3 separate regions of the Homo sapiens genome follow, and regions 1 and 2 are each linked to region 3. Evidence: fine-mapped expression QTL. A gene starts in region 3. Each other region holds a variant in brackets. All regions are shown on one strand. Distances are from middle to middle.

Region 1 (8,178 bases), 34 kb after region 3:
GCTAGAGTACCATGGTGTGATCATGGCTCATTGCTCACTGCAGCCTCAACTTCCTGGGCTCAAGTGATCCTCCCACCTCAGTCTCCTGAGTAGCTGGGACTATAGGTGTGTGTCACCAGGCCTGGATAATTTATTTTGTTTATTTATTTTTCTTTCTGAAGATTCCAGAAGTATAATTTTTTATTTTTTGTAGAGACAGGGGTCTCTCCATGTGGCCCAGGTTAGTCTCCAATTCTTGCCCTGAAGCTATCCTCCCGCCTTGGCCTCCCACAGTGCTGGGATTCCAGGTATAAGGCACCGGTCCTGGCCAGTCCTTCTTTACCTGGAAAGCTGCTCTTTTCAACACAACACTCAGCCTTGGGAAACCCGAGGGTGTAGGAAGGAGAGCCCAGATAGGATGAAGGGGTACTGGTCCATGGACAGAGAGCAGGGTTGAGCAGGGGTTTTTTTTGTTTTGTTTTTGTTTTTTGTACCTGACTCACTCCTCCATGTGCCCAGGCATTAAGACGCCATTAAGGCGCAGTGGCTCACACCTTAATCCCAGCACTTTGGGAGGCTGTGGCAGGCAGATCACGAGGTCAGGAGATCAAGACCATCCTGGCCAACATGGTGAAACCCTGTCTCTCAGGAGAATCGCTTGAACCTGGGAGGTGGAGGTTGCAGTGAGCCGAGATCGTGCCATTGCACTCTAGCCTGAGTGACAGAGAGAGACTCTGTCTCAAAAAAAAAAAAAAGAAAGAAACCCTGTCTCTACTAAAACTACAAAAATTAGCTGGGCGTGGTGGCACATGCCTGTAGTCCCAGCTACTCAGGAGGCTGATGCAGGAGAATTGCTTGAACCCGGGAGGCCGAGATCACGCCCACTGCACTCCAGCCTGGAGACAGAGCAAGACTGTCTCAAGAAAACAAAACAAAACAAAAAAAGATAAGACCTGGCCAGTAAGATGTCCACGTCCCTTTCTCCTACCCCACATCACAACAAGGGCTACGGGATACGAGAGAAACTGGTCCAGATATTGACCTAGAAAACTCTGATGGATGGATTTTTTGTTGTTGCATGTGTTTTTGCATATCCTCCTTCCAGCCCTCTAAACAGTCACTTTCAAAAACTCTTCATTTCCAAGTTAGACATCACTATTACAACTTCTGTAAGCGGCTGTAGTTTTAGTAGAGACGGGGTTTCACCGTGTTAGCCAGGATGGTCTCGATCTCCTGACCTCGTGATCCACCTGCCTCGGCCTCCCAAAGTGCTGGGATTACAGGCGTGAGCCACCGCGCCCGGCCGACAGGGTTTTACTATGTCGCCCAGCCATGGTCATGGCTCACTGCAGCCTTGACCGCCTGTGGTCAATGGACCCTCCCACCTCAGTCTCCCTAGTAGCTGGGACTACTGGCATGCACCCATGCCTGGCTAATATCTTCTTCTTCTTCTTCTTCTTCTTTTTTTTTTTTTTTTTGAGACAGAGTCTTCCTCTGTCACCCAGGCTGGAGTGCAGTGGTGTGATCTCGACTCACTGCAACCTCCACCTCCCAAGTTCAGGCGATTCTTGTGCCTCAGCCTCCCAAGTAGCGAGGACTACAGGTGCATGCCACCACACCCGGCTAATGTTTGCATTTTTATTTAATTAATTAATTTATTTTTTGAGACGGAGTTTCGCTCTCATTGCCCAGGCTGGAGTGCAATGGCATGATCTCAGCTCTCTGCAACCTCCATCTCCCGGGTTCAAGTGATTCTCCTGCCTCAGCCTCCCATGCAGCTGGGATTACAGGCATGTGCCACCATGCCCAGCTAATTTTTGTATTTTTAGTAGAGACAGGGTTTCACCATGTTAGTTAGGCTGGTCTCGAACTCTTGACCTCAGGTGATCCACCCGCCCCGGCCTCCCAAAGTGCTGGGATTACATGCATGAGCCACTGTACCCAGCTATTTTTCTATTTTTTTTTTTTAAATAGAGTTGGGGGTCTCACTATGTTGCCTAGGCTGGTATATTTTTATTTTATTTTATTTTTTATGAGACTAAGTCTTGCTCTGTTGCCCAAGCTAGACTGCAGTGGCAAAATCTTGGCTCAGTGCAACCTCCATTTCCCAGGTTTAAGTGATTCTCATGCCTCAGCCTCCTGAATAGCTGGAATTACAGGTGCTCACCACCATGCCCGGCTAATTTTTGTATTTTTAGTAGAGATGGGGTTTCACCATATCGGCCAGGCTGGTCTCAAACTCCTGACCTCAGGTGATCCACCCACCTTGGCCTCCCGAAGTGCTAGGATTAGAGGCATAAGCCACTGTGCCCAGCCAGATATATTTTAAATTTATTGTAAACTATTAATGTATGTCAAAACTATATACAGGCAAACTTCGTTTATATTGCTCTTTGAAGATATCACGTTTCGTAGATACTGCATTTTTTTATGAATTGAAGGTTTGTGGCAAGGTCAAGCAAGTCTATGAGCACAGCTTCTCCAACAGCATGTGCTCACTTAGTGTCTGTGTCACATCTTGCTGATTCTTTCAACGTTTCAAACTTTTTCATTATTAATATATCTGTTATGGTGATCTGTGATTGGTGATCTTTGATGTTACTATTTAATTGTTTTGGGGTACCATGAACCGGGCCCATACAAGATGGCAAACTTAATTGATAAACTTTTTTTCTTTTTTTTCTTTTTGAGGCAGAGTTTCACTTGCTCAGGCTGGAGCTCAGTGGTGTGATCTTGGCTCACCGCAATCTCTGCCTCTGGGGTTCAAGCGATTCTCCTGCCTCAGCCTCCGGAGTAGCTTGGATTACAGGAGTGCGCCACCACGCCCGGGTAATTTTTGTGTTATTAGTAGAGATGGGGTTTTACCATATTGGCCAGGCGGGTCTCGAACTCCTGACCTCAGGTGATCCACCCGCCTCGGCCTCCCAAAGTGCTGGGATTACAGGTGTGAGCCACTGTGCTCAGCCACAATTGATAAACGTTTTGCTTGTTCTGGCTGCTCCATCAAACGGCCACCAACGGGTCATTCTCCCTCCCTTCTGTCTCCCTCTTCTGGAGCCTCCCTATTCCCTGAGACACAAAGATGTTGCAATTAGGCCAATTAATAACCCTATGATGGCCTCTAAGTCCTCTGTTCACACAAAAGCAAGAGTTCCACATCTCTAGGTACAAAGGATTAAGCTTAGTGAGGAAGGCATGTTGAAAGCCAAAACAGGCTGAAAAACTAGTCTTCTTGAGCCAATTAGCCAAGTTTAAAAGACAAAGGAAAATTAAAGGCACTATGACAGTGAACACACAAACAGGAAGTACGCAAAACAGGCTGGGCGTGGTGGCTTGCACTTATAATCCCAGCAATTGTGGTGCCCAGGCAGGCAGATTGCTTGAGCCCAGGAGTTCGAGACCAGCCTGGCC[A/T]ACATGGGCAAACCCAGTCTCTACAAGACATATAAAAGTTAGCAAGGTATGGTGGTGCACGCCTGTGGTCCCAGCTACTTGGGAGGCTGAGGTAGGAGGATCGCTTGAGCCTAGGAGGTCAAGGCTGCAGTGAGCCATGACTGTGCCACTGCACTCCCATCTGGGTGACAGAGTGGAACCCTGTCTCAAAAAAATTTTTAAATTAAAAAAAAAAATTAAAAAGATATATCCTTTTTTTTGTTTTCAGACAGAGTCTGGCTCTATCACCCAGGCTGGAGTGCAATGGCATGATCTTGGCTGACTGCAACCTCCGCCTCCTGGGTTCAAGCGATTCTCCTGCCCCAGCCTCCCAAGTAGCTGGGATTATAGGCACCCGCCACTATGCCTGGCTAATTTCTGTGGTATCTGCATATTTTTTAGAGATAATATGATGGCTTACTTAATAGACTACAGGATAGTATGAACATAACTTTTATATGCACTGGGAAACCAAAAAAAATTCATGTGACTTGCTTTACTGCAGTGGTCTGGAACTGAACCTGCAGTATTTCCAAGGTATGCCTATATATCAAAAAGGCCTGGAGGGATTCAGCAGCAACATGTTAACTCCCCTCTGGGAAGGAGGGTGGTTTGGGATGGGGTGGTAGACATTACCAAGGTGAATCAATATTTCCAGCTCTCTTCCTGTGTCCAGGGGAAGGTTATACTTTCACACTGTCTTGAAGTTAGGTGTATCCTTGTGATTTGCTTGTGAAATGTGAGGAAAAGTGTCAAGTATCCCTTCCAGGGGAGGCATTTGAGATCCTGTGTTGGTTCTCATGCTTTCTTCCTCTATAATGGTGAACTGTGAAGTATCACGTTGGGATGGTGGCATCATATGTTGGTGGCACTGTGACTATGGTGCGGACTACAATGAGCTGAATCTCTGTGTCCATGTTAGGAATAAAGCATGGGCAAGAAAAAAATCTTTGTTGTTTTAAGCCATTGACATTTTTAGAGATGTTTGTTACCACAGCATAGCCTAGCCTGTCCTGACTGATGCAAGGGGTGATGAGAGAGTTTCGTGTCTTCTGCTAGCCTTTTCTGTATTTTTATCCTTTTACAATGAGAAAATGCCATTTATAATTTTTAAAAATAAAAATAAGATGCCTGTCATGGTGGCTCATACCTGTAACCCCAGCACTTTGGGAGGCTGAGGCGGGAGGATCTCTTGATCCCAGCAGTTTGAGAACAGCCTAGGCAACATGGTGAAACCCCAAAAATTAGCTGTGCGTGGTAGCATGAGCCTGTAGTCCCAGCTACTTGGTAGGCTGAGGTGGGAGAATCACCTGAGCCTGGGAGGTCGACGCTGCAGTGAGCCGAGATTGTGCCACTGTATTCCAGCCTGGGTGACAGAGTGAGCAAAATAATTTAAAAAATAAGAATAATTGACATGCACACAAATAGGAGCATAATATATACACTGCTATCCAATGTTCCTCTTATTCTTAAAACTGACCTTACGTTTTTGTTTTTGGTTTTTGGGTTTTTTTAGGGACTGGATCTCACTCTGTCACTCAGGCTGGAGTGCAGTGGTGTGATCATAGCTCACTGCAGCCTGGAACCCCTGGGCTCAATGATCCTCCTGCCTCGGCCTCCCAAAGTGTTAGGATTACAGGTGTGAGCCACCGTGCCCGGCCAAACTGACCCTTTCTATGTCAACTTACATAGCTCTACCTCGTTCTTTTAAATAGCTGCATGGTAATCTGTTCTCTGGATACACTACAATGTATTTTATACAAACACACACATTTTTTTAGAGACAGAGTCTTGCTAAGTTGCGCAGTCTGGAGTGCAGTGGCTATTCACAGAACCATCCTGCTACTGATCAGCACCAGAGTTCTGACCTGCTCTGTTTCGGACTTGGGCTGGTTCATCTCTCCTTAGACAACCTGGTGGTCCCCCAGCTCCCAGTAGGTCGCCATATTGATGCCCAACTTAGTGTGGACACACTATAAGCATAGAGCACTACAGCCCAGAACTTCTGGACTCAAGTGATCCTTCCACCTCAACCTCCTGAGTAGCTGATTACAAGGTGCCCACCACCACAATGTATCATAATGGATCACTATTGACAGACGTATAGGTTATTCACATATAGATTATTCACATCCGGTTATTCACAAAACAAATGCTCTAAATCACAGCTAGACTACAGCTGACTATTGCAAAATTTATGGGAGAGTGCTGATATTTATTTTCCCTCTTTTGTTTCATTCTGGCAGTTTACAGCCTGATCTTAGCACTCAGGTAGGGCTGTGCAAACTTCCTGTGGATGGATGACTAAGCCAGGCATGCTTGCACCCTTTCCAGGATATACGGATGAGGAGGCTGGTAAGTGCCTGCAGGGGTGCATGCGTGAAGGCTTGGGGGCGGGCCAGAAGAGCAGGGCCGGGAAGCACGTACACATTGCAGCTCTGGGCTGACTGACCCTGACTCATGAGTTCAGGCAGAGAAGTTAACGGCCTGGAAACTCCAGAGCGCTGAACGAGGTCTGACTCACTGACAATTATCCAGAAACGAGTAATATCACTTCTCGGTTTTCCTCCAGAGCCACCACACAATCTTTGGGAAGGGCCTGTGACATGAATCATTAAGATCCTGAGAAAGATGAGAGTTGTTCAAAGAGACTGCCAAGAGGTTTATAATTTCTGTGTCATTCATTGGAAGATGTCTACTTAGTCCTCATTACCTTCATATTTTGAATGCCCCCCAAGTAAAGGGTCCATTCATGGGTGACACAGATTCCACCTGCATCCCTAGAGGGATCTGACTGAAAACATGAGACACATGTATCAGGACTTCTTCCCATTCTTTTATTTCTATTCAGTGGTCTTCCTTCCTTCCTATTTCATAAGATAGGGTCTCACTGTGTTGCCCAGGCTGGAGTGTGGTGGCTATTCACATACATAATCATGGCTTACTGCAGCCTCCAGTCCCTGGCCTCAAGTGATCCTCCTGCCACAGCCTCCTGTGTTGCTGGGACTACAGGCCCATGTCACCATGCTTGGCCTATTCAGTAGCTTTTTTCAATTCTTTTTCAGAATGAAAATGGCTTTATTGGCTGGGTGCAGCGGCTTATGCCTGTAATCCAAGCATTTTGGGAGGGTGAGGCAGGTGGATTACCTGAGGTCACGAGTTCAAGACTAGCCTGATCAACATGGTGAAACCCCATTTCCACCAAAAATACAAAAAAATTAGCTGGGCTTGGTGGTGCACACCTGTAATCGCAGCTACTCGGGAGGCTGAGGCAGGAGAATCACTTGCACCCAGGAGGCAGAGGTTGCAGTGACCTGAGATCACGCCATTGCACTCTAGCCTGGGCAACGAGAGTAAAACTCCATCTCAAAAAAAAAAAAAAAAAAAAAAGCCTGATTATAAAGGAAATACTTGCCCATTATAAAATAAAACTTCAGACAAGTATATAGAAGGGAGTGAAATCACCCATAAGGTGATTCCCAGAGATGCTGCTATTAGCATTCTGGAGCACATCCTTCCAGACTTTCTGTATGTGTGTCTGCATACAACGGAGACACATATTTGCAAAGTTACCAATAAGTATAGATTTCTGCCCTCATTTGGAGGAGCTGCCCCATATTCCATCACAAGGGTGCCTCTCGTCTCCTCCCTCTCCTGCTGCAGATCTAACAGAAGGCCATGGCAAGGACTTAAAAAGCTTTCTTTTCTTTTTCTTTTTTTTTGAGACAGGGTCTGTCTCTGTTGCCCAGGCTGGAGTGCAGTGATGTTATTTTGGCTCACTGCAGCCTCAACTTCCCAGGCTCAAATCATCCTCCCACCTCAGCCTCCCGAGTAGCTGGGACTACAGCGACATACCACCATACTGCTGATCTTTGTTTGTTTTTTTTTTTGAGACAGAGTCTTGCTCTGTTGCCCAGGCTGAAGTGCAATGGCATGATCTCGGCTCACTGCAACCTTCACCTCCCAGGTTCAAGAGATTCTCCTGCCTCAGCCTCCTGAGTAGCTGGGATCACAGGTGTGTGCCACCATGCCTGGCTAATTTTTGTATTTTTGGTAGAGATGGGGTTTTGCCATGTTGCCTAGGCTGGTTCAAACTCCTGGGCTCAAGCCATCCTCCCACTTTGGCCTCTCAAAGTGCTGAGATTACAAACATGAGCCAACATGGCTGGCCTCCCGGCCGATAAGCTTTTTTTTTTTTTTTTTAAATTGAGATGGAGTCTTACTCTGTCACCCAGGCTGGAGTGCAATGACGTGATCTTGGCTCACTGCAGCCTCCACCTCCTGGGTTCAAGTGATTCTCCTGCCTCAGCCTCCCGAGTAACTGGGATTACAGGCATGTGCTACCACACCTGGCTAAGTTTTGTATTTTTAGTAGAGATGGGGTTTCACCATGTTGGCCAGGGTTGTCTTGAACTCCTGACCTCAGGTGATCCACCTGCCTCGGCCTCCCAAAGTGCTGGGATTATAGGCGTGAGCCACTGCGCCCGGCCCAGATAAGCTTGTAATGAGCCTAATAAAGGCATCTAAAGATGGCATTTTGGTTTTAACAATTTAGCCGTGAAGAACTCCATCTTCCATGCAACTGGAAGGGAATTTACATGCATATGGTCATGGGGGGAGGAACACTGTGCTTAGAGTCAGACCAGCTGAGTTCTAGAATTCCCTTTGCCATTTTCCTATGTGGGCAAGTCCCTTCACCTCTCTGAACCTCATCTGCAGTTGAATATATGTGAAACCGGCTGTTAAGTACTATGTGCTATGTACTCTGTA
Region 2 (8,178 bases), 51 kb before region 3:
ATTCCTAGGTCACAAGACCAGAGCTCTGAGAGCGACCCTTTTCCTCCCCCTGGTATCTCAGCATGGGAAGCCAGACCCACTCACTCTGCGGGGAGGCACCAGGTGCGGGGGAAGATGTTGTACTCAGAGGGATAGAGTTTGTACATGCGGTTGAGGTTCCGAGCCAGCAGATCTTTGCGGCAGATTTCTGTCATGCCAGGGAAGTGGTTGATTTTCTGAAACACAGCCAGTTAGTATGAGCCCCCAGAGTAAGTGGCATTTCCTAGCACCTGGGCATCCCAGGAAGCAGTGGAGGAGGATTGGGAAGGTTAAGGGAGAAGTCACAGTGGAGGTAAGCACTGCACCAAGGACCCCAAGGGCAAACATAGGAAGGTTCCTTAAGGCAGGTGAGAAAACCCTCTGTGACTCCTACCCAACACACACATCCACACTGAGCTCAGCAAATGAGGGGCAGTGAGAAGGAATGTAACTAGCCAAGACTGTGGCTTCCACAGTCCACCTTCTAACACCCCTCAGACCACCAGGCCTAGTCCTCTAACAATAACTAATGCATGATAGCACAAAGCAGACAATGAGACGAAAGCATTCCCCAAAAGACACAAAAGATAAAAGGAAACTAAGAACCAGCCCCAAGGAATGTGATGCCATGGCACCCACTGAGGGCATGGCATCACCCTGGTGCCTGCCAGAAACCCCTGGCTGCTCTGTCCTGCTGGATGGGTGGCAGCATCCGGGATGCCACCAAGTAAAGAACAAATAATGAGATAGGATGTACCCACCAGACACTTCCTTCAGGTAATTCCAGAGACCCAGGAGGAGAATCTTTCCGTTGGAAAAGAATACCCTGGGGATGGTCTTTCCTGTCTGCACAGGGGGACAGCCACAAAGAGTATGCTAAGTGCTCTCCACTGGGTTTCCCCATCACTGGCCGCACTCACTGTATGAACTTAGTATTTCTGACCCTCCATGTCCTAACCAAGGGATATCTGCTGCTCAGGGCTGTTCTTGAGGATTTAATGGGGTAATACTATAAAAGCACTTAACACGGAGTCTGTTGTACAGTAAGCCCTCAGTAAATGCTGCTGATTATTGTTATCCTTATCCTTTTTTTTTCCCCCTTCCCTGAGACAGGGTCTCCCTCTGTCGCCCAGGCTGGAGTGCAGTGGTGTGATCTCAGCTCACTGCGGCCTCTGCCTCCCAGGCTCAAGAGATCCTCCTGCCTCAGCCTCCCAAGTGGCTGGGACTAAAGCATGCACCACTACGCCTGGCTAATATTTTTTTATTTTTGTATTTTTGGTAGAGATGGGGTTTTGCCTGTTGCCCAGGCTGGTCTCAAAGTCCTGAGTTCAAGCAATCTGCCCACCTTGGCTTCCCAAAGGGATTTCAGGCACGAGAGCCACCGTCCACCGTGCCCAGCCTGCATTCCTCATTTTACAAATGCCCCTCCTTTGGAGCGTCCTTTTTTTTTTTTTTTTTTTAGATGGAGTCTCACTCTGTCACCCAGGCTGGAGTGCAATGACACAATCTTGGCTCACTGCAACCTCCGCCTCCTGGGTTCAAGTGATTCTCCTGCCTCAGCCTCCTAAATAGCTGGGATTACAAGTGTGCGCCACCATGCCTGGTTAATTTTTGTATTTTTAGTAGAGATGGGGTTTTACCCTGTTGGTCAGGCTGGTCTTGAACTCCTGACCTCATGATCCGCCCGCCTCGGCCTCCCAAAGAGTTGGGATTACAGGCGTGAGCCACTGTGCCCAGCCTTTTTTTTTTAAAAAAAAAAAAAACAGGGTCTCACTCTGTCACACAGGCTGGAGTGTAGTGGCATGATCTCTGCTCACTGCAACCTCCACCTCCTGGGTTCAAGTGAACTCCTGACCTGAATTGATCCACCTGCCTTGGCCTCCCAAAGTGGTGGGATTACAGGTGTGAGCCACCACACCCAACCTCCTCTGGAGCTTCTTGAGAACTTCTAGCACTTGCTTTCTCTCTTGGGCACCTCTCCCAAGACTAGTTGTGGGACAGGTTTTAATTTCCTCAACTTCCTGCCTGGCTTCCCCAAAGAATAAGCCTGCAGACTCTTTTAAATTATTTTATTGCTGATCACCACAAACGCCCAATTAGAGGATAATAAAAATGTCACAAGGCAGTTCTATTCTTGTGGACCCCGGTGGATCATTCCTGAATTTCTTGCCACCAGGCAGGACCCCGCAGTCTCCTAATGGATGTGGAATGCTAAACTAAGTTGCTTAGAAGGCTGGATCATTCAACTGGCCCTGCTGTTAGCTCTGAAGCTGCCTCCCAGTATTCTCCCTAAGATGTGCTCACCCACCCTGGAGAGGGCCAGCTACACACAGATGCCACCAAGCAAAGTGCAAATCATGAGATAGGATGTGCCCACCAGAAACTTCCTTTGGGTAATTCCAGAAACCCACAATCTCCAAGAGGAGATCTTTCCATTGGAAAAGAAGACCCTGGGGGTGGTCTTTCTTGTCTGCACAAGGGGACAGCCACAAAGAGTAGCAGTCTTGGGTGCCTGGGCAAGGAGGTGGGAATAGTCATTCTGGGGCCCTAGCCCCTGTCGGCTCTCAGGTCAGGAGATGGGTACCTGAAACCTCTTCATGTCCATGACTCGTTCCAGTGAGACAGCGCAGTCTGTCCAGTACAGAGTCCACTCTTCATCCTCCCCCACCTCCTTCAGGCCACACATTTGGGCTGCCCGACGCACTGCAGAGACAGGGAGATCAGTAGTGCCAGCATGGACACCAGCAACAAGCCCTGGAACTGTGTAGCTGGGTCAGGTAAGGTATACACCTGACCCGAGGGCAGGTTGAAGAGGGAGGTAGTTCTTGCCTCAGCCCTGTACTTTAGTTACCACATGACAATTTCAAGTTCTTAGGGGCTGTCAGGGCCCTTCCAAAATACCTAGCAGAGAAAACTAGAACCTGGTTTTTTGTTTGTTTGTTTGTTTGTTTTTTAGAGACGGAGTTTCGCCCTTGTGCTGGAGTGCAGTGGCACGGTCTTGGCTCACTGCAACCTCCGCCTCCCAGGTTCAAGAGATTCTCGTGCCTCAGCGTCCCCAATAGCTGGGACTACAGGCGCCCACCACCACACCTGGGTAATTTTTGTATTTTTAGTAGAGACGGGGTTTTACCATGTTGGCCAGTCTGGTCTCGAACTCCTGACCTCAGGAGATTCGCCTGCCTTGGCCTCCCAAAGTGTTGGGATTACAGGCATGAGCCACCGTGCCCAGCTGCTCCTGTCAGTCTTATCTCTCAATCAGGGATGTTTATGGCTTGGAGAGCTGCCTATAGGTGGGGTCACACTGGCACTTCACACTCCATACTTGTGTGGTTCCTTATAAAGATGCCAGAGGGAATATTAGGGGAAGGACCTAGCTGGAGATTGTTTTTTTTCTTAATCGTTGAAGTCCCTTCAAATCTTCCTTGAAAAAACTGTTTTAAGCTTGTCTCATCTCTGGTAAAATCTGGGAAGGGTCTGGCATGGTGGCTCCTGCCTGTTATCCTAGGCCTTTGAGAAGCTGAAGTGGGAGGATCACTTGAGCCCAGGAGTTCAAGACCAGCCTGGGCAACATAGCAAGACTCTGTCTCTACAAAACATTTAAGAATTAGCTGGGCAGGCTGGGCATGGTGGCTCATGCCTGTAATCCCAGCACTTTGGGAGGCTGAGGTGGGTGGATCACCTGAGGTCAGGAGTTCAAGACCAGCCTGGCCAACATGGAGAAACTCTGTCTACTAAAAGTACAAAATTAGCCAGATGTGGTGGCACATGCCTGTAATCCCAGCTATTTGGGAGGCTGAGGCAGGAGAATCGCTTGAACCTGGGTGGTGGAGGTTGCAGTGAGTCGAGATCACGCCATTGCATTCCAGCCTGGGCAACAAGAGCAAAACTCGGTCTCAAAAAAAAAAAAAGAATTAGGTGAGCATAGTGGTGCAGGCCTGTAGTCCCAGCTACTGGGAAGCTCAGATAGGAAGACGGCTTGAGCTCGGGAGTTCAAGGCTGCATTAAGCTATGATTGCAATACTGCACTCCAGCCTGGATGACAAAG[C/T]GAGACTCTGTCTCAAAAATAAATAAATAAAATCTGGGAAGGGTGGGGCAGTAGTGGCTCTTGGACTTTTTTTTTTTTTTTTCTTGTTTACTGTGAGGATACCCTCCCTAACACTGAGACTACCTGGAATGGCAATGTCTCAGCTTCCAGTGTCTGAGGCAGAGGACACCTAGGAAGCTCAGTACAGGTTAGAGGCAAGCCCGCCAGGCCCCAGGGGCTGGAAGCCTGATCGGGGGTCCATTCCAGAGGAAGAACAGCAGCTGTAGGCACCATGTTATGCACCACAGTGTGAGCGACGGGCTGGGTGCTTACCACTCTCATACTTGCAGTTGGTCAGGTTGATGGCCAGTGATCTGGAATGGAGGAATAGCATAAATCAGGAAGAGTGGGAGGGAAGGACAGGTACTCAGATGAAAAGACATCCAACAAATTCACAACACAATTCCTTTTCTCTAGAAGCCACTTAAAAGACAGACCAGGATGGGCTGGGCGCGGTGGCTCATGCCTGTAATCCCAGCACTTTGGGAGGCCGAGGCGGGTGGATCACAAGGTCAGGAGATAGAGACCATCCTGGCTAACACAATGAAACCCTGTCTCTACTAAAAATACAAAAAAAAAAAAAAAAATTTGCCATGCGTGGTGGCAGGTGCCTGTAGTCCCAGCTACTCGGGAGGCTGAGGCAGGAGAATGGCCTGAACCCGGGAGGCGGAGCTTGCCGTGAGCCGAGATCACGCCACTGTACTCCAGCCTGGGCGACAGAGCGAGACTCTGTCTCAAAAAAAAAAAAAAAAAGACAGACCAGGATGACATAAACAGGCTGGGATTCCAAAATGAGCCAGCCTAAATGGTTCTGAATTTTGTTTCTGTTGTATCAAAGGGTTAATGACACTCCAGCATTTCCTGTCCTCTTTTGTAGGCTAAAGGGAAGATCTGAGATCCCAGCTCCTCCAGATGTTGAAGGGAGGCCAATGGGTGACTCCCTGGAGCTGGGCAGTTGAGGGGATCTAGGGAATAGTTACCTGCGTTTCCGCCTTCTCTTCCTCCTCCCAGCTTCTAAGTCGCCTGTGTCAACTGGGGCTATGACTTTCTTCGGAATTTTTGTGGCCATAATGGGTGAGGGAACCCCATTTTTTAATGCCTTATAGTCAGCTTTTAAGAGAGCCTGCTGTGAAGAGTTAGAGGGGTTGGTAACTCCCTCTTTAACACACTTCTCAGATTCCTTTTCCTCAACATAGTCTTCCTCTGATTCCATGGTCCTACAGGTACTCGGCTCCATTCTCTCAGATTCTGAGGGGTTGCGGGGTGGGAATGAAGTGTATATCAGACCTCAGACCTCCCTCAGGCCCTAGAAGGCCTGAAGGAATCCACCAGAACGACCTTCATGCTGTTATAAGGGAAAGTTGCTGCCCCTTCAGGACAAAACTGTTTCACTGAGGAATGGGATGTGTCCAGGTAGGTGGAGGTGCATGGGGGTGGAAGACACCAGTGAGATGTGGATTCCCTGATGACAAGCCCCAATCATCCAGGTTCACACTGGATCATACAACGCACAGGGGTGCCTTCAGGAGTTGGACACAGATGGTATGGGCCATGACCATGGCTCTTTTGTTCCTAATTGGGAAAGAGGATGGCTGTGAGTGCTGGGGGGACCTTCGCTTTAAAATACAGCTGAATCGGCCCAGCACGTTGGGAGGCTGAGGCGGGCAGATCACTTGAGGTCTGGAGTTGGAGAGCAGCCTGGCTAGCACGGTGAAATCCCGTCTCTCCTAAAAATACAAAAATTAGCTGGGTGTGCTGGTGCGTTGCCTGTAATCCCAGCTACTCGGGAGGCTGAGGGAGGAGAATCACTTGAACCTGGGAGGTGGAGGTTGCAGTGAGCCGAGATCACACCACTGCACTCCAGCCTGGGCGACAGAGCAAGAGTCTGTCTCTAAATAAATAAATAAATAAATAAATAAAATAAAATACAGCTGAAGACCAAAAGCCCCCTACGCTGGCCCTTTCCCTCTCCCAGGACTCATTTTCTGCACGTGTACACACTAGGGACAGGCACCCGATGGCTAAGACCCTTTGGGCTGTGACGGTGGAGACTGCCCACCCGTGGTTACGAGGAGAGCTGAGGGGCTGCTGGGTCCGCCCCTAGCCGCCTGGGGATGGACTCAGCTGGCCGCTCATGTCCCCTCTTCCCCCGGCTCCAGGTCTCCCTGGGCGTTTCTGGGCGTCCGGAACCGCCTCCTCGTTTCACAGGACTGGCTGTCCCCACGATCGCGAGGGGGAAGCTGCTCCCCCGCAGGGGTTCACTCCTAGCTCCCGGTGGCCGTGGCTGCGGCTGCCGGGGCAGCGCTTCCTCTAGCAAGCCCGTGGCCGCCGCCGTTGCCATGGACACGAGGGCAGTTCCCATTGGAGAAGCGTCCTGGGGGCGGGGCTTTCCCGCAGCCACACCCACTTGGGCGCGGGCCGAGGCTACCTTGGGTGGGGGAGACAGCGTTTGCCCTTTGGAGCTGGCCGGCCTCGACGCCAGATTCTTCCGGTGTATCATGGGACTTGCAGCCCTCCCGCTTCGAAGCCAGTTCTCGCCGCACTCCCATCTTTCCCTAAACCCCGGGCCAAGGAATTTGGCCAAGCATATAATGAGGACAAATAGCTGTTTGCCTCTCCTCAATTCTCCCTTTTTTTTTTTTTTTTTTTTTTTGAGACGGGGTCTTGCTGTGTCGCCCAGGCTGGAGTGCAGTGGAATGCACCATCATAGCTCACTGCAGCCTGGACCTCCTGGGCTCAAGCAATCCTCCTGCCTCAGCCTCCCCAGTAGCTGTGACTACAGGAGCGTGCCACCACGCCGGGCTCAATTCTTTAGTAACTCTAAGTTTAGCTAGCAAAGCCTATGCATTCAAGAGTGACAGCCATGGTAAGGCCACGTGCCTTTCAAGGCTTTGCCTCTGGTGGACTGAGACAGCTCCATTAAGGAATAACCAAACCGCCTTATCACAGTGCTCCTTCACTGTCACCTTCTCTTCCTGACATCCACCCACTTTGATTTCTGCTCACCACCTCCACCCAACTCAGCTCAACTTGTCACCCTAAAATTATACTGTGTGGCTAAATCTAGAGAACACTTAAAATGTTTCCATCCTTTTAAAAAGACATGGACTTTTTTTTTTTTTTTTTTTTTTTTTTTTTTTTTTTTTTTTGAGACAGGGTCTTGCTTTGTAGCCCAGGCTGGATTGCAGTGGTGTGATCGCAGCTCACTGCAACTTTACTTAGCTTCCCAGGCTCAAGCAATCCTCCCACTTCAGCGTCCCAAGTAGCTGGGGCTACAGGTGCGCACCACCATGCCTGGCTAATTTTTGTATTTTTTGTAGAGATGGGGTTTTGCTGTGTTGGCCAGGCTGATCTTGAACTCCTGACCTCAAGTGACCTGCCCACCTTGGCTTCCCAAAGTGGTGGGATTACAGGCATGAACCACTGAACTCGGCCTAAAAAAGGCATGGACATTCTCTAATTCATAGACTGTTTTTGTTGTTGTTAATTGTCTATAAAGATAAGCTATTTCTTTGCCCACATATTCATGTTTCATAGTTCAGGAACATAGGTTAGTGATAAACTTCTATGTAATGCAACCCAAAGAAACTGTTTATACCAAAATCACTTTGCACTTTGAAAGATACCAGCCTTCCTCATCTCCTCAAAATCTTTCATAGAATCAGCAAGGCTAGGTGGCAGGCCCTGTAGTCCCAGCTACTAGGAAGACTGAGGTGTGAGGATCTCTTGAGCATGGGAGTTAAGAGGATGCCGTGAGCTATGATTATGCCACTGCACTTCAGCTTGGGTGACAGAGTGAGAACTCGTATTTAAAAAAACAAATATCTGGCCGGGTGTGATGGCTCACGCCTGTAATCCCAGCACTTTGGGAGGCCAAGGTGGGCGGATCACCAGGTCACGAGATCAAGACCATCCTGGCTAACACGGTGAAACCCCCTCTCTACTAAAAATAAAAAAATAAAAAAATAAAAATTAGCTGGGCATGGTGGCGGGCGCCTGTAGTCCCAGCTACTTGGAAGGCTGAGGCAGGAGAATGGTGTGAATCCGGAGCTTGCAGTGAACGGAGATCGCGCCAC
Region 3 (8,178 bases):
GCAGCTGATTTGTGCCAAATGCTCCATTCTCTCTGCTCAATGGCGTTTTGTTGACTGCAGTTTGCAGGCCTGCAGATTTCTGTCCAATCTGCTTCAGAAATACTGCGTCCAGAGCTTTCCCGCCCGGCACTTCTGGGGCAGGAGGGAATTAATAACTCCCTTTAAGGCCGGATGTGGTGGCTCATGCCTGTAATCCCAGCACTTTGGGAGGCCAAGATGGGCAGATCACCTAAGGTCAGAAGTTCGAGACCAGCCTGGACAACATGGTGAAATCCCATCTCTACAAAAATACAAAAATTAGCTAAGCATGGTGGCGGGCACCTGTAGTCTCAGCTGCTCGAGAGGCTGAGGCAGGAGAATCACTTGAACTTGGGAGGTGGAGGCTGCAGTGAGCGGAGATGGCATCACTGTACTCCAGCCTGGGAGACAGAGCGAAACTCCATCTCAAAATAACAATAATAATAACTCCCATTAAGTGTCCAAATAAGGTGGCCCAAAAAGACTTTGGAGGGCCATGAGAGGAGGCGTGTTTTGTTTCTCCCCACGTGGCCAGGCTGGGAAGCACTGGGCGCCATTGTTTCTACTCAGCACCACTCCTGCTCCTGACCGAGGCTTTGGTCCTGGAGCTCTGCATGGTAGTTCCAACGCAAGAGAACCCAAATTCCACACACTTCTTTGAAGTGTTCCTTTCAGAGATTTCCAGCTGACTGTGGAGCCCCCAGTGGCTGTCCCCTCATCCTCCTCTCCCTACTGGCCACTGGGCGAGGCCACAAATCGGCTCCCTGCATCTTAAGCACCCCAGGAATGTGCTGTTCATCAACAATAATTAGGGTTCCCTATGAAGGACCCCAGATGCAGGGCAAGCTGGACGCTCCACTTCAAGGGATTTTGTTTTAAACCACAGACATAGCCCCACTGTCCCTAGGCATCTGGGTCCTTACGGGGCATGGGTGGGAATTCAGTAGAGGAGTGAGTGGCAGGAGGAAAGAGGGGTGTGTAATATCCAGTTCCATGACTCTTTCTCCTAAGATGCATGCAAGGGAGGGCACTAGGGCCCTGGGCCCGGCGTCCCATGGTCACCACGAGCCTGCCCAGGATGGGCACACTGCCAGGAACATCTAATGAGCCCCCTGGGATGAGGCAGGAAACCGCCTTAGGCCACACTCAAGGGTGAGCCTGTTCAGTTACCAGGGCATTCCCCTCTCGGACTCCCAGCCAGCCCTAGGACCTGCACGTAGGTAAGAGTAGGAGGTGGGTATGAGGGCCAGGAGGAAGCCCAGAGAGGGGGCACTCCAGGGTATAGTGGCAACTCAGTCGACTATAGATACGTGCTCACAAGTTCAGGTAGCTAGGTGCCACTACACTATTCCAGGGCTTTGGTGGGACTGGAAAAATGGGCCACTCCGGGCAGACCTAGCCCCAAGAACATAGCAGAAGGGGTCTTTTGCTCCAGGACTCTTAGGTTGGAGAGCTGAGTGTGGACTGCATTTCAGGTCCTCTCAACCCTCAGCTGGGCACCTTGGTACAATGCACAAAATGCAAGCCCACCTACGGCAGCCCTGACAGGTGAATGCTGGTGCGTGACAGAAGCCTGGGAACAGTCACGGGCTTGTAGAAGTGGACCAGGTCCTGCAGCTGCATTGGTAATAATAACCAAGTATTCTAGCTGCTCCTCGGGAAGCAGGTCCCCTCGATTCCCCTCGCTGCTCTCCAGTTTTGCCTTCTAGCTACCCTGTGATTGTCCCATCCAGTTCCAGAGTTGGACATGAAACCTACCGTCTTTTGACATGGTCCCATGAGCTGGCCCAGCTTTCCCAAGGCCATAAGTGGAGTCCATTGGAGCATCTGCCCCCATCTCACCCTGCCTTCTCCCAAAAATGAGAGGGTCTGAGGGCAAAGGGAGTTGTGGCCACAACAGAAGTAGCAAGACAGCAGGCCTGGGGCTGGTTACACCTGTTCATCCTGACTTCACAAGCTGAAGCACCCAAGGGGCTACAGTCAAACTAACACCCCAACCCTGTCCTAACCCCAGGCAGAATCACCCCAGATCTGGGCAAGATGTACAGAAGTAAACTCTGAGCTGAGTAACACTCATTCAGCGGTTCCCGTACCAGGCCCTGTCCTAACGACTTTTCAAACACGAGCTGATTTAATCCTCACTACCTTGAGGTAGGTTCTGTTATTATACCTGTTTTACAGATGAAGAAATCAAGACCCAGAAACTTTAAGTAGCCTGCTCAAGGTCACATGGTTACTAAGTGGCTGAGGTAGCATTTGAACCCAGGTCATCTGCAGTATTTCAGACAGGGGTTCAGGTAGGGTTACTTGAAGCCGCTAGGGCCCTGCCTTAATTTAAGTGCTGATTCTACTATTTCCCTTTGTAAACAGGATGCTTTTAGAGGTGGGGATGCTGTGAGGAGATGGAAGTCTGGGACAGTTTCAGTCTGTAACCTCTAATTCATACATGCTTTATTCCAAGTCATACAATATGACAACCAACAAGTTAAAGGGCTTGCGGATACATCTGTTGGGCACTTATAAACTTCATACCCGAGTAACACACCTTGCAAGGCACCTACGACTGCCTATTTTGCAGATGAGAAAGGTGGGGCACTGGGAGCAGAAGGCACTTACTTGCCCAGTGGAAGAAATGGGCTTGGGATCCAGGACCCTCTGAATCTAAAGCCCAAGTGCCCCAAGAAGAGCTGGAGAAGCAACCGGATGGAAGGGAAAAGGAGAGGGAAGGGCGGAGGGCTGAAACAGGAGGTGGCCACAGAAGCAGATGTGAGGACCAGGAAAGGAACCCAGCCAACCAGGATGCTACTCCCAGGTCACTCTGAGGAGGGGTCGCGCCCAGGACTTGGGAATGTCAGCGCCCAGAGCTGCCCCCATCCGCAGTCTGTTCGCTCCCAGGACTTGGGAATGTCAGCGCCCAGAGCTGCCCCCATCCGCAGTCTGGTCGCTCCCAGGGCCTGGAGGTCTCTCCATGCTGGGGCTTGGGGCTGCACTGGCAAGCCAGGGATGGAGGGGCGGAGAGGGAGGATCGGGCGCCTGCCCGCCCACCACAGCTCCCGGCCCTGCTGCGACTTGCTGGGAATACCAGAACCCCAGTGTTTATAGGACTGCAAGCAGTGGCCTCCCTCTACCCCGAGCCGCCCTCGGGGGCGGCACCGCGGTCGGCTCTGGTCAGCATCAAAGACAAGTAGATGGGCAGGCGGACCCCGCCGAAAGTGCATCCTCCTAAGGGAACTAGGGGGGACGACAGAGCGGGCTAGACCCCATCCCTACGCAGAAAGAAAACTGAAGAAAGGGGCCAGCGGCCCCACAGCTCCCCTCTCCTCTCCCTCCCTCCGCGCAGCGCCTTGAAAAAAGAAGGGGTCCTAATGGATCCCGTGCCTCCGACAGGTCCCCTCCTTGGTCCTTTGTCACGGCCACCTCCGCACGAGGCACGTCCCCGGCAGCCTTCCTTCCCCCGGCCCGCGTCCCCGGGTCCCCGGCACTCACCCAGAGGCAGGCTGATCCGGGGGCTGAGCGCCCAGGTCGGAGGCGGCGGCTGCAGCAGGAGCAGCAGCAGCAGGAGCAGCAGCAGCGGTGGCCGAGGCGGCAGCGCGCCCCATGGGGCGGCGAGCCAGCTCCTCAGGCCCATCGCGGTGCGCAGCATTCGGAGAGCAGGAGCGACGGTGTCCCGCGGCTCGGGCTCAGGTGGCTCGGCCGGACTCACGGGCGGCAGCTCCGCCCCGCGGTCCGCCCCCGAGTCGCCCCGGGGGCCCCCGCCTCCGGACCTGGGGGGCGGGAGGTGGGAAACAGGGTCAAGTGGGCCCTGGCAAACTCAGCCCCTCCGCGGGGCACCGCAGTCCTCCCGCCGGCGCCGGCCCCGCAGCCTCGGCTTGGGCAGAGCTCACCCGCAAGCGGCGGAGGGCGGGGCTGAAGGAGGAAGTCGGCCGTGAGCCCGGCCGGCCCGCCCCCTTCCCCCTTCCTCCTTCCCGGGCGCTGGCAGCGCGAGGGGCGGCAGCTCGGGGCGCTGCCGCAGGGGCCAAGCCCGGGATCAGTAGCCCCGGCGGCCGCCGGAGCGCTGGGACGCGGACGAAAGCCGACCCCCAGCTCCCCGCCCCCACTGCTCAGACCCTCCCACCGCCGCCCAGGCCCTGGCCCCTTCCGGCTCCTCTGGGACCCTCTGCTAGTGGCGTTGGTTTGGGGACACGCTGCGTCCCCGCTATGCGCCTAGGGAGTTAGGGGGCGGATGGTGATTAGGCCTTGGTCTCCTCCCTTTAGGCGCCCCCTCCGCTCTTGCTCCTGGCGACCCCCTTGTTCCTGCGACCAAATGAACTCGGCCGAGCTCGTGCTGACACTGGGGCTAGCAGCTTGAGAGTCCAATTTTTGCACAGGTCAATCCACTGCAAGTCATGGCTGGGCATTCACTACAAGCTCAGCACTTAGTCTAGGCACCCTGCGGGCTTGTCCGCTTAATATTCTGTCCACGCGAAGCCCTCGGGTGGGGGAAGGGCAAGATTAGCTTAAGTGGGATAATAGGATTTAATGTACTGCTGAGGAGGTAAAACCTTCACAACCTGCACGTGACCCGGCAGGGGAAGGGAACCCCTAAGACTGGAGTGGAAGCCCAGAGGCACCCACCCCTAATCCTCCTGGCTCCTAACATCTCCACGGGTGGAGTTCAGCTCTGCTGAGACCAGGGGTTTCCAACTGCAGCCTGGACCATTAGCAGATTCTGAAATCAATTTAGTGGATCCCAACAGCATTAAGAAACAAACAAAACATAGAAACTATCTAAGCAATAATCTCAAAGGATAAGTAATTTTGGGAAAGCTACTTCAACTTTTCCTAAGTGTGCACAGGATTACAGAAAAATGTAGTAGTTCCTCCTGTAGTTAAGAGTCCAAAAGAGTGAAAGCCTCTGCTAGTTATTTCCATGGCAGTAGAGACCATCGCTCCATAAATTTGCTGCAATTGCAGGAAAGCTCCTCTTCACCCCCAGCCAAAATCAGCCTCCTCAGAGCACCTCTTTTCCTCTCCTCCCGACTTTCAGGGTCTGCCACATCTGCTCCCACAACAGGGATGCTGTCAAGAGGGTGGGCACAGCACCCACATGGTCCCAGGTCTCCTTTCTTACAGCTAAGTTTCCTCATGCTGCATGATTTCTGTACCTCCATCACCTTCTGTGGACATGGTGCAGGCTAGCAGCATCCCTTTTAAAGGGGCTCCCAGAACTGGACACAGAATTCCACATGGGATATGGACAGCACCAAGCACCCACAGTGCTACTATTGCCCAGGTTTGGATGCTTACTCTAAATGGGTTCAATCCACCTACAGCCAGTGATACCCAAACCCCTATCTGCCGCCTAGTCCAGCCCTGCTCAGCCCTTAACTCCAAAAGGCCTCAACTTTTTTTTTTTTGAGACAGAGTCTTGCTCTTTTGCCCAGGCTGGAGTGCAATGGTGCAATCTCCACTCACTGCAACCTCTGCCTTCTGGGTTCAAGTGATTCTCCTGCCTCAGCCTCCCGAGTAGCTGAGATTACAGGTTTATGCCACCACACCCCGCTAATTTTTTGTATTTTTAATAGAGACAGGGTTTCACAATGTTGGCCAGGCTGGTCTTGAACTCCTGACCTCGTGATCCACCTGCCTTGGCCTCCCAAAGTGCTGGGATTTCAGGCGTGAGCCACCACACCTGACCCGGCCTCAATATTTCTACTTGGCTGTCTGAAAACCATCTCGAGCCCAACATGTCCCAAACTAAGCTCCTGATCTCTCCCCCTTCTCAAAAATGTGCTCCACCTACAGCCTTCCCCATTTCATTTAATGGCAATTCCATCTTTAAATTGCTCAGGCCAAAACCCTCAGCTCCTCTCATTATCTCACTCCTCACATCCAGTCCATTAGAAAATCTATAATCTGACCACTTCCCAGCTCCCTAGGGCCCAGGCACCACCCTCTTTCTCCTGGTTACTGCAAGGGCCTCCTAACTGTTCTCCCCGTTTCCTCCTTGGTTCCCCTACAATCTATTCTCAACACAGCAGCTGGAGTGAGTCTTTAAAACACAAGCCAGGACAGGGGTGGTGGCTCACGCCTGTAATCCCAGCACTTTGGTGGGCCGAGGCGGGCAGATCACTTGAGGTCAGGAGTTCAAGACCAGCCTGGCCAACATGGTGAATCCCCATCTCTACTAAGAACACAAAAATTAGCTGGGCATGGTGGTGTGTGCCTGTAATCCCAGCTACTCGGGAGGCTGAGGCAGGAGAATTGCTTGAACCGGGGCCTGGGAGGCGGAGGTTGCAGTGAGCTGAGATTGTGCTACTGCACTCCAGCCTGGGCTACAGAGCAAGACTCCATCTTAAACAAAACAACACACAACACAAGCCAGATCAGGGCTTTCCTCTGCTCAAAACCCTCCAAGGGTTCCCCCATCTCATTCACAATGACCTTACTTGGAGTGGTCTGCAAAGCCCTCCATGTCATCCTCACCACCAGTACCACTGCATCCTCTACTACTTTTCCCCTCACTCATCCACACCAGGTACATATATAGTAGCCCGAACCAGCAGGGCCTTTGACCTGGCTGCTCCCTCACCTGGCACACTCTCCCCCTAGATAACCACAGGACTGAGTCCCTTGCTTCCTTTTGCTCATTTATCACCTTGAAGAATCTGAACTTCCTCCTAATATGCCCCTTATCTCCTTAAAAATACCTTGAGATATTTTTTCAGAGCACTCATCACTGAATAACATACGATATATTAGTTATGGTTTTTCTTTATTGTCTGACATCCCATCTCCCCCAGAATGCTGACTGAGAGGGCAGAGATTTTTGCTTATTTGGTTTGTTAAGTAATGTATCTCAAGCCTCTAGAATAGTGCTTGGCACATGGTAAGCAGGACTTCAGTAAGTACTGGATGAATGAATGAATGAATGCAACTTGAGTCACAGAATACTGCTGACTCATGTCAGCTGACAACCAGAACTATTTTTTTTATATCAACTTTGGTCCAATAAAGAGTTTTACCAGCCAGGCGCGGTGGCTCACGCCTGTAATCCCAGCACTTTAGGAGGCCGAGGCAGGCGGATCACGAGGTCAGGAGATCGAGACCATGGTGAAACCCCGTCTCTAATAAAAATACAAAAAAAAATTAGCCGGGCACAGTGGTGGGTGCCTGTAGTCCCAGCTACTCAGGAGGCTGAGGCAGGAGAATGGCGCGAACCCGGGAGGTGGAGCTTGCAGTGAGCCGAGATCACGCCACTGCACTCCAGCCTGGGCCACAGAGCGAGACTCCATCTCAAAAAAAAAAAAAATTAATTAATTAATTAATAATAAAATAAATAAATCTAGTGGTTCTGGCTCAGATGTCATCCCACTGAAGTCATGTTGAAAACTGATTCTATTATCATACATTTGGCTTCCCCTTCCAGTATGGGGTCATCTGTAAACATGATAACCATTCCTTATGCCTTTATTCAAGCTATTGATAAAAATATTGGGTGAGCAGGGCCGGGCATGGTGGCTCACGCCTGTAATCCCAGCACTTTGGGAGGCCGAGGTGCGCGGATCATGAGGTCAGGAGCTCGAGACCATCCTGGCTAACACAGTAAAACCCCATCTCTACTAAAAATACAAAAAATTAGCCGGGCGTGGTGGCGGGCGCCTGTAGTCCCAGCTACTCGGGAGGCTGAGGCAGGAGAATGGCGTGAACCCGGGAGGCGGAGCTTGCAGTGAGCCGAGATCGCGCCACTGCACTCCAGCCTGGGGGACAGAGCGAGACTCCGTCCCAAAAAAACAAAAATTGGGTGAGCAGATCTAGCACCTAAATCTTCGTTTACTTTTTTCTTTTTTATTGAGAGAGGGTCTCACTCTGTCACCCAGGCTGGAGTACAGTGGCAAGATCTCAGCTCACTACAACCTCCACCTCTCAGGCTCAAGCAATCCTTCCACCTGAGCCTCCTGAGTAGCTGGGACTACAGGCATGCACCACCACACTCGGATAATTTTTGTAATTTTTTTGTAGAGAAAGGGGTTTCACCACGTTGCCCAGGCTGGTCTCAAACTCCTGGACTCAAGCGATCTGCCCACCTCGGCCTCCCAAAGTGCTGGGATTACAGGCATGAACCACTGTACCTGGCCAATCTTGGTTTCCTAATCCTACTCTCTAATAAGAGAACCAAGA

Evidence for each region.
Region 1: its variant is fine-mapped to the expression of SEMA4B in whole blood (INTERVAL, PIP above 0.99).
Region 2: its variant is fine-mapped to the expression of SEMA4B in whole blood (INTERVAL, PIP above 0.99).

What each region holds. Positions count from the first base shown.
Region 1 is chr15:90,163,536-90,171,713 of GRCh38, reverse strand. It overlaps the pseudogene RN7SL346P. Among named protein-coding and RNA genes, the nearest start is that of SEMA4B, 34 kb to the left of the region's middle. RefSeq lists a silencer at 7,752-7,907. The variant A/T (reference allele first, on the strand shown) is at 3,391.
Region 2 is chr15:90,247,792-90,255,969 of GRCh38, reverse strand. It overlaps TTLL13 (tubulin tyrosine ligase like 13), which reads right to left and starts at 6,414. Exons shown (of 15, transcript NM_001396017.1): 1 at 6,162-6,414; 2 at 5,083-5,350; 3 at 4,376-4,416; 4 at 2,603-2,721; 5 at 85-215. The coding sequence starts at 5,339. It also overlaps a transcript of CIB1 not described here. The variant C/T (reference allele first, on the strand shown) is at 4,064.
Region 3 is chr15:90,197,062-90,205,239 of GRCh38, reverse strand. It overlaps SEMA4B (semaphorin 4B), which reads right to left and starts at 3,910. Exons shown (of 14, transcript NM_198925.4): 1 at 3,505-3,910. The coding sequence starts at 3,661. RefSeq lists a silencer at 3,459-4,218 and an enhancer at 3,391-4,362.